Regions from separate parts of the Homo sapiens genome. Here region 2 is linked to region 1. Evidence: fine-mapped expression QTL. Tissue or cell type: whole blood. Region 1 holds a variant in brackets; the other region holds the start of a gene. All regions are shown on one strand. Distances are from middle to middle.

Evidence for each region. PIP is the estimated chance that this variant, and not a neighbour inherited with it, causes the effect.
Region 2: it holds the start of NFYC, and the variant in region 1 is fine-mapped to the expression of NFYC in whole blood (Lepik 2017, PIP 0.95).

What each region holds. Positions count from the first base shown.
Region 1 is chr1:40,486,044-40,494,149 of GRCh38, reverse strand. It overlaps ZFP69 (ZFP69 zinc finger protein), which reads right to left. Exons shown (of 6, transcript NM_001320179.2): 4 at 4,936-5,062; 5 at 4,526-4,621. EXO5-DT (EXO5 divergent transcript) reads left to right here. Exons shown (of 2, transcript NR_187365.1): 2 at 462-3,125. Among named protein-coding and RNA genes, the nearest start is that of ZFP69, 13 kb to the right of the region's middle. The variant C/T (reference allele first, on the strand shown) is at 4,131.
Region 2 is chr1:40,686,958-40,695,063 of GRCh38, reverse strand. It overlaps NFYC (nuclear transcription factor Y subunit gamma), which reads right to left and starts at 3,360. Exons shown (of 10, transcript NM_014223.5): 1 at 3,197-3,360. NFYC-AS1 (NFYC antisense RNA 1) reads left to right here and starts at 2,803. Exons shown (of 1, transcript NR_024567.1): 1 at 2,803-5,984. It also overlaps a transcript of RIMS3 not described here. RefSeq lists enhancers at 2,373-2,422, 2,443-2,612 and a silencer at 2,853-2,952.

The DNA.
Region 1 (8,106 bases):
TCAGAAAGATAAAAGGAAGATGTTTCCCTCCCCACTCTGGCAGCAGCAGGAGACATTCGTTCAGAAAATACAGTTTGAACTAAGAATACACACAAGAACATTATGCTGTCTTTTATTGAAACTTGTGTGTGTGTATATATATATATTTCTCTTTCTATAGTTATTAATATGTTCATGGAAGTATTACTTATACAAAGGAGACTTGTAAGAAACCCAGATTGCTATGCTGTTACTGCTGCTAGGTTCTAGGAAAATACCCTTTAACCTTTAAGATTTTTACTTGATAAATTTGTTGCACCATTACTAATATTTCAACTGACAGGTCTTTATGTATTCCTGAAAGGTTTAATTTCTTATAAGATTTTTTTTAGCCAACACAGATGGATCATTAGCAATTCAAAATGTCAAATTCTAAATGACAACAGGCAATAATAATGTCTAATAATATCTATGCTCTGCAGGTCCCTGATTCTGGTCTTGAATAGCGGAGGAGGAAAAGAAGATGATGGGGGAAAAGAAAAGAAGCCATTTATGCATCCCTCCCTAATTCAGTATCCGAGCATGAGGGAGTGTCAAGCTAGTGGGGAAGAAGAGAGGGTTTAGTTTTGAATGAAGTTGGGAGTTTTTATTATTGCACTGAACTAAATAGGCATTTTACTAAAGTCAAGACTGTTCTTGTTATTTAAAGGAACGGGATCATCAATGGAACTCTTTGAGATTTCATCCAGAGGCTGGGAAAGAACATTCATGGTAGCTTTTATTATTATTTTCATTATTGTAAGTTGAGGAAGAGAAAACCCAGGAAAATATACAAAGAGTGATTGGAATTAATAAGAGTAAAACAAGGTGGCTGTATAAAAGGTCAATATTCAAAATCAATTTTGTTATTACTTACTAGCAACATAATTTTTTTTTTTTTTTTTTGAGACAGAGTTTCACTCTTGTTGCCCAGGCTGGAGTGCAACGGCGTGATCTTGGCTCACTGCAACCTCCACCTCCCGGGTTCAAGCGATTCTCCTGCCTCAGCCTCCCGAGTAGCTGGGATTACAGGCATGCACCGCCACACCTGGCTAATTTTGTATTTTTAGTACAGATGGAGTTTCACCATGTTGGTCAGGCTGGTCTCGAACTCCTGACCTCAGGTGATCTGCCCGCCTCAGCATCCCAAAATGCTGGGATTATAGGCATGAGCCACCGCACCTGGCCAGCAACATAATCTTTCTTTAAAAATATACCTGTTCACGACTGAGGCTCAGGGAAAAGAAAAGGAAAAAAAATACCATCTACAGTAGCAACAAAATATAAGATTTTCAGAATCAATCTAACAAAAAATGTACAATATGTACAGGAGAAAATCCTGAAATGTTACTGAAAAAAATTAGGAAATATCAATAAATGGAGTGCTATATCATATTCCTGGAAGGATTCAATAGCATAACAATGTTAACTCCCCCAAAATTGATCTAGAAATTCAATTCTATTCCAATCAAAATGCCAGCAGAGTATTTGTGGGTGTGATTTGATGCTCTGATTATATAATTCAAATAGAACAACAAGGATCCAAGAATAACCAGAACAACTTTAAAGAACAAGGTGGGTGAACTACCTCTACCACATATTAAGTCTCATTATGAGATACAGTTTTTAAGACAGCCTGGCATTAGAGTAAGGACAGAAAAACAAAAGAATAAAACAACATAAAGAGAGAAACACGACAGAAAAAGAATATACAAAACAGAAACAGACCCAAACATATAAAGAAACTTGACAGGTGACAGAGCAGCATTAACTATTCCTGGACTGATTATCCATGTGGAAAAAGTTAATCAGATTTCCACCTCATACATACAAATTTATTTATATAAAATAAATTCCAGATGAATTAAACCTAAATGTGGAAAGCAAAACTTTGAAAATACAGGAATATGTAAAAACATATATGTATGATCCACATATATGATAAAATGGAGGATAGCAGGGCACAGCAGCATGCACCTGTAGTCCTGCCTCAGCCTCTTTAGTAGGTGAGGTAGCTGAGGCAGAAGAATCACTTGAGCCCAGGAATTCGAGGCCAGCTTGGGCAACATAGCAAGACCCAGTCTCTAAAAACAATTTAAAAAGTTTACAAAAAAGAATAATAAGGCATAAAAGGGTTTCTTAAAAAGCACAAACAATAAAGAAAATCCTGATAAATTCAGTAACATTAAATTTAGAAACTCACGTCTAACAAAAGACACTAATTTTGAAAAGTCAAAGATGGGCCACTGACCTAGAGTAAACATTTGCAAAACATAAAGCTATCAAGGATTATTATCTAGAATGAATATATGTATAATTATACTAGAATGAATATATATATATATACACACACACACACACACACACATACACACACACATTTTTTTCTACCAATCAATAAGAAAAAAAGATTATAGAAACATTGGCAAGGGATATAAACAGGTAATTAACAGAAGAGCCTGGCATTAGAGTAAGGACAGAAGAAGAGATGGATGGATGGTCAATGAACATGAGAAATATACTTCCTTTCACTGGTAATCAGGAAAATGAAAGAAACAAGATACCATAACCCAGTGAATTTACAAAAATCTTAAAGTTTGACAATAACAAATGTTGACAAAGATGCTGAGTTATGGAAACTCTCAAACCCTGTTAATGGGAGAATAACCTGGTGTAACTGCTTTGAAGAGCAAATTGGTAATACCTAGCAAAATGAAAGTGCATATATTCTACAACCCAACAATTTTGCTTCTACCAGCTATCTTAGAGAAACACTTGCATTATGTATACAAGAAGTTATGTACACAAAGGTTTGCTGTAGCATCTTTGTAACTCCCAAATTTGGAAACAATGTAAATGTCTATCAACAGGAAAATGAATAAGAACATTGTGGTTTATTAACTCAATGGATTGAATGAACTAGAATAACATACTGAGGAATATCACCAGTGTTGAATGAGAAAAGCAAAAGGAAGAAGTATATATACCATTTATTTAAAGAAAGAGAACATGCAAAACAATGCTATATATTGTTTAGTATGTATACACTGATATATAGACTGCTTTTACTACATTATACATGTAATAAAAGCACGAAGACATGGGAATAATATTTCAATGCAGAGTGCTTATTTCAAAAGGTGTAAGGGGGACAGTGGAGCTTCAACTGTGTTTCATTTCTTAGTCTAGGTGGAAGCTACACAGAAATGTGTTATAATGTTTTCTATGCCTTTCTGAGTGTCTAAAATATTTCAGAATAAAAAGCAAAGTTTGAGGAGATTGTTAGGGACCCCGACATTTGGTTGAGAAGGAATCCTTTGGTAATTTCTCTTACAGGAGTTTTCATAAGTAGCTGTTACAAAAAAGATACATAAGTTAAAAAGAGAATGAGAATCGAAGCTGGAATTGTAAAATGAACATTGGCAAGAAGTAAAAATGGAGTGCAGGAAAATTAAAGATTTGTAGAATGCAATGGGAGTCTTGGAAAGAGATTGGTTTTCTGTGAAAATACCACATACATTTGACTGCTTAGAGAAAGCTTTAGATTGGCAGCCCTTAGGATACTGGAGAAAGGGAAAATCCAGCTCAACCTTAATGAGGACAAGACTGCTCTTTCCTCCAACTCCAGGGGACTTTTGCAAGGGCTCAGTGAAGGAAAGGGGTAAGGAAGGGACGGGTGATATTAGTTTAGTGGAGGCTCTGTCCAGTGGTCTGAGCCCTCCCCACAGCCGAGGCTTTGAGCACTCTGACCTACATATTAAAATTCCATCTGCCTTGGTGATTTGGTTTGAATATTTATCCCCTCCAAATCTCATGTTGAAATGTGATCCCCAGTGTTGCAGGTGGGGCCTGGTGGGAAGTGTTGGGTCATGGGGGTGGATCACTCATGAATGAGTGTCCTCCCCATGGTAATGAGTTCTCACTCTGAGTTCACATGAGATCTGGTTGTTTAAAAAGCCTGGCACCAGCCTGGCGCAGTGGCTCACACCTGAAATCCCAGCACCTTGGAAGGCCGAGGTGGGCAGATCACAAGGTCGAGATCAAGACCATCCTGGCCAACATGGTGAAACCCTGTCTCTACTAAAAATACAAAAATTAGCTGAGCGTGGTGG[C/T]GCATAACTGTAGTCCCAGCTACTCGGGAGGCTGAGGCAGGAGAATCGCTTGAACTCCAGAGGCGGAGGTTGCAGTGAGCCAAGATTGCGCCACTGCACTCCAGCCTGGCGACAGTGCGAGACTCTGTCTCAAAAAAAAAAAAAAAAAAAAAAGAAAAAGAAAAAGAGCCTGGCACCTCCTCCTTCACTCTCATGCTCCAGCTCCCACCATGTGATATGCCTTTCACCATGATTGTAAGTTTCCTGAGGCCCTCACCAGGAGCAGATGCCAGTGCCATGCTTCCTGTACAGCCTGCAGAATCATTAGCCAATTAAACTTCTTTTCTTTATAAATTATGAAGTTTCAGGTATTCCTTTATAGCAACACAAAAACAGACTAACACACTTGGTCTCACCTGAACTGGGATCTCCTGGGCCTTCTTTCTCTGCCATCCATGGCTCTTCTCCTTTCTCTAACTGGGATATCACACTAGGTTTGGAAAGTTGATATCCTGCTTATGTAGTAAAAAAAACAGTGTGAATGTTTATGCTGATGTCTAAGAACCATCCTCAGAATTTTGAGTCTTCTGGTATTCAGGGTCTCCACAAGTGGAAAGGGGTGGGTCTTTCTATCCTAACTATGTGTAGTAAAGTTGTTCCCCAAGAAAGTCAAATTGGATATGCCCTCACTTGGTTTTCAAAGGGAATAAGACATCTTTAATACAGAACCCAAATCAAGCCTCAAGGAATCTACACATCAATAATTTAAAATAATGACTCTCCTGTAATGGGTGGGTTTCTGGATGCATGGATAGCCAAGTCTTACCCACTGACACCAAGTTGCTGTAGTTCTCCAGCATCACCTCTCGGTATAGATTCTGGTGAGCAGGAGCCAGCTGCCCCCACTCTTCCTGGGTGAAGTCAATAGATATGTCCTTGAAAGTCAACAATTCCTAGAACATCAAATACATTCATTTTTAGCCGGAGACCACCTCTGTTAAGTTCCAAGGAGTTCTGACAGTATTCTAAATTCTGAGAGATTCTAAACTTACTTTTATCAGGAGCCTTCTCTGGATCTGTTTGGAGATCCTCTGATCTCCAAATCTGATCAACAAAACTGTCTGGAACTGTAGTCTGTCTGGATCTCTAATCTGGAGATTACTATAAATAATGTAATATATAGAAAGACAGATGGTGATACATACCTTAGAAAAAAATTAAGCAGGATAAGAGACATTGGGAGAACCACAGTGAGGGTAGGATGATCTTTTATGTAAAGTGGTTGGGGAAGACTCTCTAAAAGGGTGATGTTTGACCGGAGACATAAATTCAGTAAAGGGAAGAACCACATGGAAATCTGAGAGAAGAGCATCCTGGGCAGGTGCAAAGGACCTAAGGTGACAGTGTCCTTGGCTTGAGGAACAGGAAAGTGAACAGCATGGCTGGAGGTAGGCTGGTTGATGAGAGAGTGGAAAGAAATGAAATCAAGAGAGGTGGAGATGAGGAACAGGGTGGGATAGGGGTTCCCCCACCACCTCACGCACTTATTGTCACAAAGACCTGTGCATTCTTACTGAACTTGAATTCTGAGGCCCTGCTGGAGTTTAATGCAAAAATGAACAAAACTGTCTGGAACTGTAGTCTAATCCCTTCCTAAGCTCAAATGCCAAAAAGATAAAAAGAAAAGCCCTCAGCAATTGTGGCATGGGCTAATCAGAAGTATACTCAATCAAATTAAAGCTGCATGATAGCCAGAGCTCAGCCACAGCTCTAGGAGGAGCCCCTCACCTTAACCACCAGAGAGACGAAAGGGTTTGGAAATAGAACAAATCAAAACACATGAATAAACTATGTGTGTGTGTGTGTGTGTATACATACAAAACACACACATGTATGTATGTATATACACATGCACTCCTGCCTTGGCCCCTCAAAGTGTTCGCATTACAGGCATGAGACACCGTGCCCGGCTTAGAGATCACTTTTTTTTTTTTTTTTTTGAGACAGAGTCTCACCCTGTTGTCCAGGCTGGAGTGCAGTGGTGCGAGCTCAGCTCACTGCCACCTCCCGGGTTCAAGTGATTCTCCTGCCTCAGCCTCCCAGGTAGCTGGTATTACAGGCGCACGCCACCACGCCCAGCTAATTTTTGTATTTTTAGTAGAGACCGGGTTTCACCATGTTGGTCAGACTGGTCTCGAACTCCTGGCCTCAGGTGATTCGCCCACCTCAGCCTCCTGAAGTGCTGGGATTACAGGCGTGAGCCACCGCGCCCGGCCTGAGAGATCACTTTTTACTGTGATATGCAATTTACCGGAGAGATGAAGTGCTAATGCAGAGATGCTTAGCATCACACTGAATTTTAAGTAAATACTTGAAACACCTGAGCGCACTACAATAGCCACAGGAGATAGCTATAAAATTATCATACTAATACACTAGGTGTACTATAGTTTATTTTATGCAGTAGTGATTTAATACTGCATCTTTACATTTGTTTACATTTCTCTCAACTGAGAATGGCACCATGAATAGTCTGTGCACATAAGCTTTGAAAATTTTTAACTTTTTATAATAGATACGTGTATCTCTTATGGTAGTAAATGATAAAATAGACTAGTACCTACATATATTTTATGTATTCATAACATACCTAACTTTTTCTTAATTTTTTTGATACTCCTAGGCTACATGGTCCATCTGCAAGTTTTTTCAAATTGTCACAAATCTCCAAAAAATGTTTCAATATATTTATTGAAAAAAGTCTATATAGAAGTGGACCTGCACAGTTCAAACCTGCGCTGCTCAAGAATCAACTGTAGGCCGGGCGCAGTGGCTCATGCCTGTAATCCCAGCACTTTGGGAGGCTGATGCGGGCGGATCATGAGGTCAAGATATCAAGACCATCCTGGCCAACATGGTGAAACCCTGTCTCTACTAAAAATACAAAAATTAGCTGGGCATGGTGGTGCATGCCTGTAGTCCCAGCTACTCGGAAGGCTGAGGCAGAAGAATCACTTGAACCCGGGAGGCGGAGGTTGCAGTGAGCCGAGATCTCGCCACTGCACTCCAGCCTGGTGACAGAGCAAGACTCCATCTTAAAAAAAAAAAAAAAAAATCAACTGTAAATGAAAATTCTACAAGTGAAAAAGACAATATCTAAAAATTCATTGGATGGGCTTAAAGTAGATTAGACCATGATGAGATAAGATCAGTGAAACTTAAGATGGGTCAATAAATATTATTCAAACTAGAGTACCAAGAGAAAAAAATCTGTGGGATAATATCAAGTGGTCTATTATACATGTAATTAGAATCTCAGGGCTAGGTGGGATGGCTCCTGCCTGTAATCCTAGCACTTTGGAAGGCCAAGGCAGGAGGACTGCTTGAGCTCAAGAGTTTGAGACCAGCCTAGGCAACATAGGAAGACCCTGTCTCTACAAAAAAAAATACAAAAATTAGCCAGGCATGGTGGCGCACACTTGTAGCCCCAGCTGCTCAGGAGGCTGAGGCAGGAGGATCACTTAAGCCTGAGAGGTAGTGGTGGGAGGGAGGGAGGGAGGGAGGAAGAAAGGAGGGAGGGAGGGATGGAGGGAGGGAGGAAGGGAAGGAAGGAAGGAAGGGAGGGAGGGAGGAAAGGAGGGAGGAAGGGAGGAAGGGAAGCAGGGAGGGAGAAAGAGCAATCTCAGAAGAGGGAATAGGTAGAAAAAATATTTGAAAAATAATGGCTGAAGATTTTCCAAACTAATAGGAAAAAAAATCAACCCACAGATCCAAGAAGCTCAGCAAACCCCAAAAAGGATAAACTCAAAAATCACAGCAAGGCACAGTGGCTCATGCCTGTAATCCCAGCACTTTGGGAGGCTATGGTGGCAGATCACTTGAGGTCAGGAGTTTGAGACCAGCCTGGCCAACATGGTGAAACCCCATCTCTACTAAAAATACACAAAATAAAAAATAAAATAAAATAAAATAAGGCGGGTGTGGTAGTTTACATCTG
Region 2 (8,106 bases), 200 kb before region 1:
TGCGAGGCTGGTCTCAAACTCCTGACTTCAAATACCACCTGCCTCAGCCTCCCAAAACGCTGGGATTAGAGGCGTGAGCCACTGCGCCCAGTCTCTAGTAGTTCTGACCAAAGAAAAAAATGTGTAAGTATAAATGAGATAACAGATTTGTCATAAGAATTAAATAAGATGCCATGAACACAGCCTATAAAGTATAAATCTTAGTATGATTTCTGCCTGAAGAAAAAGCTGAGGTTCACAAGTTTTCAACATAAACTCAGATCTACTGAGATTTCCTGAGAGTTCAAGATTTCTAGAGTGGTCAATTCCAGATCTTAACAAGGTGGCCATGGGTATAAGGGGCTAACATGGAATGAAGGTGGTCACCAATGTTGAAGGGCAGGTTGCTCCAGAAATGCCTGCTGAAAAAAAAAAGGTGTACATATACACTCATTTTTATCACCTTGTCTAGTCTTACTAAAAACGAAACTAAGTTATAGATCTACAGCATTCTTCATATTTGGTTAACTTGATGACTGAGCCAAATGAGGCTGAAATGACCAATGTACAAAATACATGGCAAACCCTATTTTCACTTGTAGCTTTGCCTCTATCTTCCACAGTGAAACGTTATTGTAAACAAAAATGAGGGAGGGCTTCACCTAAGCACATCAAGACATAAAGCAATTAAGATTTCCAACTCACTGGTCTCCTCTCAAACCCTGATTTAAAGGTTTCCATGCAAAATTGGAACTGCAAATATTTTGTCCTATCCAGTCTTAATTTTACACATTGTTCAGGATAAGCATATCCTAGAATCAATATCCCACAGTCTGAAGAAAGCACTAGGCCTTTGAATAGGTCCTGGTATTTGGGGACACCCTAAGGAACTGGTGATGCTTGAAAAACCTCTCCAGTGAGCTCTTTACACTAGGCACTTGGTAGTTCCTCGCCATTTGGCATAAATTACCTCCACATACAGAAAGACTATCTGCAATATTCTGAAGCTTGGTTTTAAGGAATGCAGATTCTTCAAGTTTCTGTACATATTTTTCCCCATTATCTACCTGGATTCAGGAAAAAATGCAGCAATTTACTTGGTAAATCTTCCCTTTCACAATAGAAGCCAAGGGATATGATTTGAATACCTAGCTGAAGAACCCATATTCTCTATGGTTACAATTCTGTGGTCTGAATCCTTAAGCAGCACAAGAAATTCTTAAGAATTATAGTCTTCCATTTTATACACTCTAAACACCCAGAAATCAAAGTAGATGATCCACTTGGAAATACAAAATTATCTGGAAGTTTCATTAGTCAGGTTTATGTTGATAGCTGATGTAGCAGATAAAATTACAGGCTTTGGCATCAGGCAACCAGGGTTTGAATTCTAGCTCAACCACTTACTGAGTGACACCAGACAAGCTACTTAAACTCTCTGATCCTCAGTTTCCTCATCTGCAATATGGGGACGATAATGCCTACCTATTGGAGTTAAAATATGCCCCAAAATAGCAATTCTCTTCCTCTGCTACTTATCAATTCCCTTCTCCAGAAAATGTAGTTGCATTCACATAAAACTAAATTTGAAAACCCTAGGAGTTTCTTGAAATTGGTATGAAAACAGAAGAGTACCATCTAAAGCTAAAAAGGACTACCTAACAAAAACAAGGAAAAACAAATTAGGAAAACACAGATGTTTAACATAAATGTGTTTCCATGGCCCTCACACACTGGGACGAGCAAATGTAAAGCAATACAAGTAACTACGATTCAGATTCAGTGGAAAAGAACATATTCCCAACAAGTTGACTGGAACGACTCTGGATTGGAATAAAAACTTTTTGAATATGAACCAGAAAGTGTTGACAAGTCCTGTTCCTTAAGAAGCTATGCATGGGCTTTTTTTTGGTTTGGAGCTGCTTATTTGAAAAAACAAACAAAAAATTCAAAGTACACATGGGAATGGGTATACTTTTTAGGCACATATACAAGGAAATAAACCAAGACCGAAAATTTCTGGCTAGCTCCCTTTCCCTTAAAGGGGAACCTAACAATATTTACTCAACAAATAACTACCAACTACCTAATATTTGCTAATGTGGCTTTGGAAACTCAGCCATGACCTGTATCCTTCCTAGAGCAGCAAATTTCATATACAACATCTCAAAACTACTTGTATGGTCCTGAGACTCAATAATGTATAACTGTTCTATTAATACACTTCCCAAGTCCGAAAATGTCCCCTAAAATGCTTCCTATATCAGATTTTGTCACTTTAAATCTGATACTACTTAATGCTGTGCTTCCTAGGCTCGGACAGAGCACACTTCTCAATAGCATTCCTCTCTCGGTTTACTTGCTCCTCACATCACATCCCAGGTCCGTTGACTCTGGACTCCAGGGCTCCACCAAAACCTCAGTGTTTGAATGCTTGCACTCTCCAGCAAAATCCCTGATCCGATTCTACCGTTCAGCTATGCCCCTAGCCCTGATGCCTTTCTTCCTACACCATACACTCACACCGTGGACTTCAGGGCCACTTCCAAACTGGGTCACATTAGCAACCCTGGATCTCGAAGACTCTCAGCCTGTCACTTGGGTTTCGGTGTTTCCAAGCCTGGAACCCTGAGGGCCTGCACACCCCAATCTTGGGCCATGCATGTACCAGGAAAAGCACCTCTGAAAGTGAGTGTCCCCCATTCCCAGGCCATGGCCTAAGCTACCCCCAAAGTACCTGCCAGGCCATCACCCTCTCTTCCCCCTTAAAGCCTCTAGGCTCGCCCTCTCGCCGCAACCCCACGCCTGCGCCGCAGGGGGTCATTGCCCCAGCCGCCCTAGCCCAAGACGCGCGCATCCCCGCAGCCTCAGATTCCTTCATCACCCCCTAGACCGGAGCTGGCGCGTCCAATAAGGTGCCAGGTCCGCGGCCTCCCCGCCACCGACCAATCACGAGCGAGCCCCCCCGCCGTCGCCTTCCGCCAATGGGAGAAAGCCCGCGGGCCGGGCCGACGAGGCACACGGACCCCACGAGCGCGGCGGCGGCGACAGCAGCGGGCCAGGCAAGAGCACAACATGGCGGCGGGCAGGACGGACCGAGCTACAGCAGCGGCCGCGCGAGGAAGTGAGGTCTCTGGCGAAGGCGGGAAGCGCTGCCCCTCCCCCCGCCGCCGCTTCCCTATCACCCTCGCACAGAAACTCCCGCACACTCACACACCTCTGCTCAGGAGTCCAGGAAGAGCAGGAGCCGCCCCCGCGCTCCTACGGAGTCGGGCAATGCAGAGGCCCAGGCGCGGCGGAGGGGAGGGGGAAGTGTGCGTCACGGAGAACGGAGCGCGCGCGAAGCGGGGGCACAAGCAAGATGGCGGCCACGCCGTTTGCACCGTTTCCCCTTTTCCCTTCCCCCTCCCTTGGCGCCTGGACTCCCAGTATCGTGCGGTGCGCAGAAGCTGTGCTCCTTGAGGTCTCGCGAGAATTGGGAAGGGGCGACGACAGAGGGAGGCGGAATGAGATCTGAGAGTTTTAACCCCGCCCCCTTTCGGGAGCTCGAGATCTGAGTTTTGACCCCGCCCCCTTTCGGGGGATCCGGAGGCGCTGCCCAGTGACCTCCACCACCCTGCCTATCCTTGTGGATCTCCTTGGTGCGAGCTTGAATTTTAGGAAATAAGTAGGTGTGTGCGCGTGCCCTTGAGTTTTAGGAACTAAGTAGGGGCGTGTGTGTGTATTTGTGTTTTTAATTTGGGGAGAAAGAACTGGGGGATGAAGGTCGACATGGCGTTCCAGATTAAGCATGCCGTTCAAGTAGACAGCTACTGGCACCTTAAATTCATAAAAGAGCATTTAGCACCAAACTGTAAAGTGATGTCCTCTAGAATAAAGAACAGTACTTACCAAGAATAGTTAGCTTGTAACCTTACGTCGACATAGTTGTTCTTATTTGAATGCAGATTTTAAAGTTTTATCACGCAGTTGGAAACCACAGCTACTATGAGCATGGATTTTTTCATACTTATCTCTTTCATTTCCGTGACCACTTGGTCCAAAGGCATCAGGATTGTATCCATTTTACAAATGATAAAACTGAAGCTCAAAAAGGTTAAGTAACTTGATCTAAGTCCCCACAGCTAGTAAGTGTCAAAACCCCATCCGAATAACTTCAAAACCTGTAGGTATAGTCATCAAATGTGTCTTGAATGGAATTACCTACAGTGAGAGTTAGTGCATTAGGTAACAAGCGCAGAGAGGAATGACTGCCTCTGCTGATGGTAACCTTGAATTTTACAAATGACACTGGAGCCTTTCTGAGACTAGTGTTGCATGGGTCCTCAATAAAATCACACTGTTGTTACTCACTTCCTTTGGGTTTATAACCCTGGTGATAAAGTAATTGAGAATAGTGGAGTAAACCCTCGACTTGAATTCAGGAAAATTGTTTTCAAATCCAGTTTCAATAAATCTCACATCAGGCACTCTATTTGATGAATGAATGAACAAAACCTAACTATAAGACACTTGACTTCAGGGAGTCTCAATTCCTTCATCTGTAAAAAGATCTAATTCCTAACTTTTGGTAATGTTGGGGAGAGTGAATGAAATAATGTGAGAGTGCTTCGTAAATTGCAAAAGTGTTATAAAGAAGTTACTGGTAAGAGCTACGAGTGTCTCGCTGCACTCTAGCATGGGCGACAGTGCGAGGCCCTGTCTCAGAAAAAAAAAAAGTTACTTATAATGACATTTTCAGACATGAGAAATGGCATAAAATTAAAAACAGATTCAAGAGAATAGTATGTTGAGATTGTAGAGACAGATGTAGCTAATGGAAAAAAGCTAAATAAGTCTCTCTACAGATGTTTATTGAGTACTTATTGCATATACTATGCTTGCCAAAAAATGTAAAAGTGTACATTTAGTTACAATGAAGCAGCACAAGTTATTATTAGTGATTATTGTTATAATTAAGTATTGATCACACTTAGGGGCTGCAGTCTATTTCCTTCCAAGAGCCTGGAAGTTGGGTTGCCCTCAGAAATAAATAAAAATCTACATAGAGGAAATTAGCTAAGAGTGATATTAAGTATATTTAACAACAAGTAGTGCTCAAGCATAGATGAAGCAGAATTAGAAATGCAGCTAGGATCCTGGAGGTATACGTCTGTGCTAGGTGTTAACCCTTCAGTTGCTGGTTTGTGAATAGGAGGTCCCAAGGGATCCCAGGGGAAGGGAGTGGTCAGGAGGTTTGGGACAGCAGCTATTTACCAGGTAGTACTAGAGTATTTCAGTATTTTAATAGTCAATGTTATAACTGATAACAGTCAATTGATACATATAAGCCTAATATTAGTCCTTGCTATAGTCTTTATTATCAATAGCCTCCGCCCTTCCCTTTCTAAAGCCGTTGCTATCTGGCCTGTCCCTAGGAGATTAGGGTGAAAGACTTCTCACCCTAATGTCGTCAAGCTTGGCCTTGTTTTGACCAATGAAATATGAGTAGAAATGGCATGAACCGGCCGGGCACGGTGGCTCACACCTGTAATCCCAGCACTTTGGGAGGCCGAGGTGGGTGGATGACGAGGTCAGGAGTTCAAGACCAGCCTGGCCAAGATGGTGAAGCCCTGTCTCTACTAAAAATAAAAAAATTAGCCAGGTGTGGTGGCAGGCACCTGCAATCCCAGCTACTCGGGAGGCTGAGGCAGGAGAATTGCTTTAACCAGGGAGTTGGAGGTTGCAGTGAGCAAATATCACGCCACTGCACTCCAGCCTGGGCGACAGAGTGAGACTCTGTCTCAAAAAAAGAAAGAAAGAAATGGCATGAACCACTTCTGAGCAGAAATTTATGAGCTATCTTACAATTTTGCCATATTATCTTTCCTCTGACACAAGAGCAGCATGTCCTAAATAGAGCTCCCTCTTCAGCTTTGGTCCCAGAATGAAGATGTGCAGAGCGACAGCTGACACACATAACCTGTAATGTTGTGTGAACAATAAATAAACCTTTGTTGTAAGCCACTGAGATTGTTTTCGTTGTTACTGCAGCATAACATGCTAGCTAAGCAGACTAATACAACCATGAAATTAGCTATCCATGGGGGTAAGCCAAGACCTTTTTTACAAACATGACCAAACAAAACAAAACAAACTCTGATAAAGGGCATATGGGAGGAACCTGAAGAAGGTAGATATTGTAATTTAATAAATGGAACCTAATCAATCTCGTCAGCCATTCTGTACCCTGTTTGGAGAGAGATTCTGTGAACAAAAGGGCTTGCTCAGCCATGGCAGCCCAAAACAAGGCAGTCACAAAGGCTAGCACTACCATTGCCCCTCTAAGCCTCATCTCAATTAAGCCACACTGAGCATTAGGATTTCCTTGCCCGTGTCATCTCTGTAGTGGATGGGAATATCTCAGACTGCCTCAGCTAAGAAATACTTCTTAAGATCAACATGCTTTCCTCTATGTTCACCCAGCAAGTGTCTTGGCGATAGGGACAGAATTAAGTGATCTGCCACCTAGAGTATTCTAGTTCTTTTGATCATTGTATTTTTCATTGTAACTAATCAGTTAGATTCCTCTTTATATAAAAGTTTCTGTGAGCTTGGCAAATACAAGACACCCCCTACCCCCAGGAAATGGTTCAACTTTCTGCTTACTATTAAAATTAGGTTTCTGAGTTTGCAAGGTTAAACATCAGTTCTTGTATCATGGTAAATTCCTTAAGGTTATAGCACTGTATAACAGAACCTGTCTAGACAGCCAGCTGGACTTCCTTAAGCCACACCTCTCTATCTCATTGTGTACCTTTGGCCTAAAAGAAAAGCAGCGCTGGCCAGGCGTGGTGGCTCACACCTGTAATTCCAGCACTTTGGGAGGCTGAGGCGGGCAGATCACGAGGTCAGGAGTTCGAGACCAGCCTGATCAACATGGTAAAACCCCGTCTCTACTGAAAATACAAAAATTAGCCGGGCATGGTGGCACACGCCTGTAATCCCAGCTACTCAGGAGGCTGAGGCAGGAGAATCACTTGAACCTGGGAGGCAGAGGTTGCAATGAGCCGAGATCGCACCATTGCACTCTAGCCTAGGTGACAGAGCGAGACTCTGTCTCAAAAAATAGAAAAGCGGCACTAAAAGATATAGTTCATGTGCTGCTGGAGTTCAAAAAGGGAAAGCTTACTTCCACTTAGTATGAAATAGTGGGAGGAGTTCAGGAAAGATTTGCAAGGATGTGACATTTGAACTGGGTCTTGAAAAATGAGTAAAATTAGGGAAGACATGTAGGCAGCCACTAAAGCAAATAGAAGAAGCGAGGGATCAGTTGAGGAAACACAGAGTAAGAGGGAATGGAAGAAGAATCATGGAAAGATACATTATTATGGTTAAATTAAGGCTCTTGGGCTTTATTTTCTGATACGGGAAGTGAGTGGTAGAAGTTTTTTGTTTTGCTTTTAAACAGGTTTAACCATTTTTTTTTTTTTTTTTTTTTAGGAGATGGAGTTTTGCTCTTGTTGCCGGGGCTGCAGTGCAATGGTGCAATCTCGGTTCACTGCGACCTCCGCCTCTCGGGTTCAAGCGATTCTCCTTTCTCAGCCTACCGAGTAGCTGGGATTACAGGCGCGTGCCACCAGGCCCGGCTAATTTTTGTGTTTTTAGTAGAGACGGGGTTTCATTATGTTGATCAGGCTGGTCTGGAACTCCTGACCTCAGGTGATCCACCTGCCTTGGCCTCCCAAAGTGCTGGGATTACAGACGTGAGCCACCGCCCCTGGCCTAAATTTAACCATCTTTAAGTATACATTTCAGTGACATTAAGCCTGTTCACGTTGTGCATCCATCAGCAGAATTTGTCATTATCCCATACTGAAATTCTGTATACGTTAAACGCTTACGCCCTATTCTCTTTTCCCCAGCCTCTGGTAACCACCATTCTACTTTCACCTTTTGGCCACTGTGAATGATGCTTCTGTGGACATTAGTATACAAATATCTGTTGGAGTCCCTGCTTTCAATTATTGGGGGTATATACCCAGAAGTGAAATTGCTGGATTATATGGCAATTCTTATGTTTAATTTTTTTTTTTTTTTGAGGAGCCACCATACTGTTTTCCATAGCATCATACCATTTTACATTCC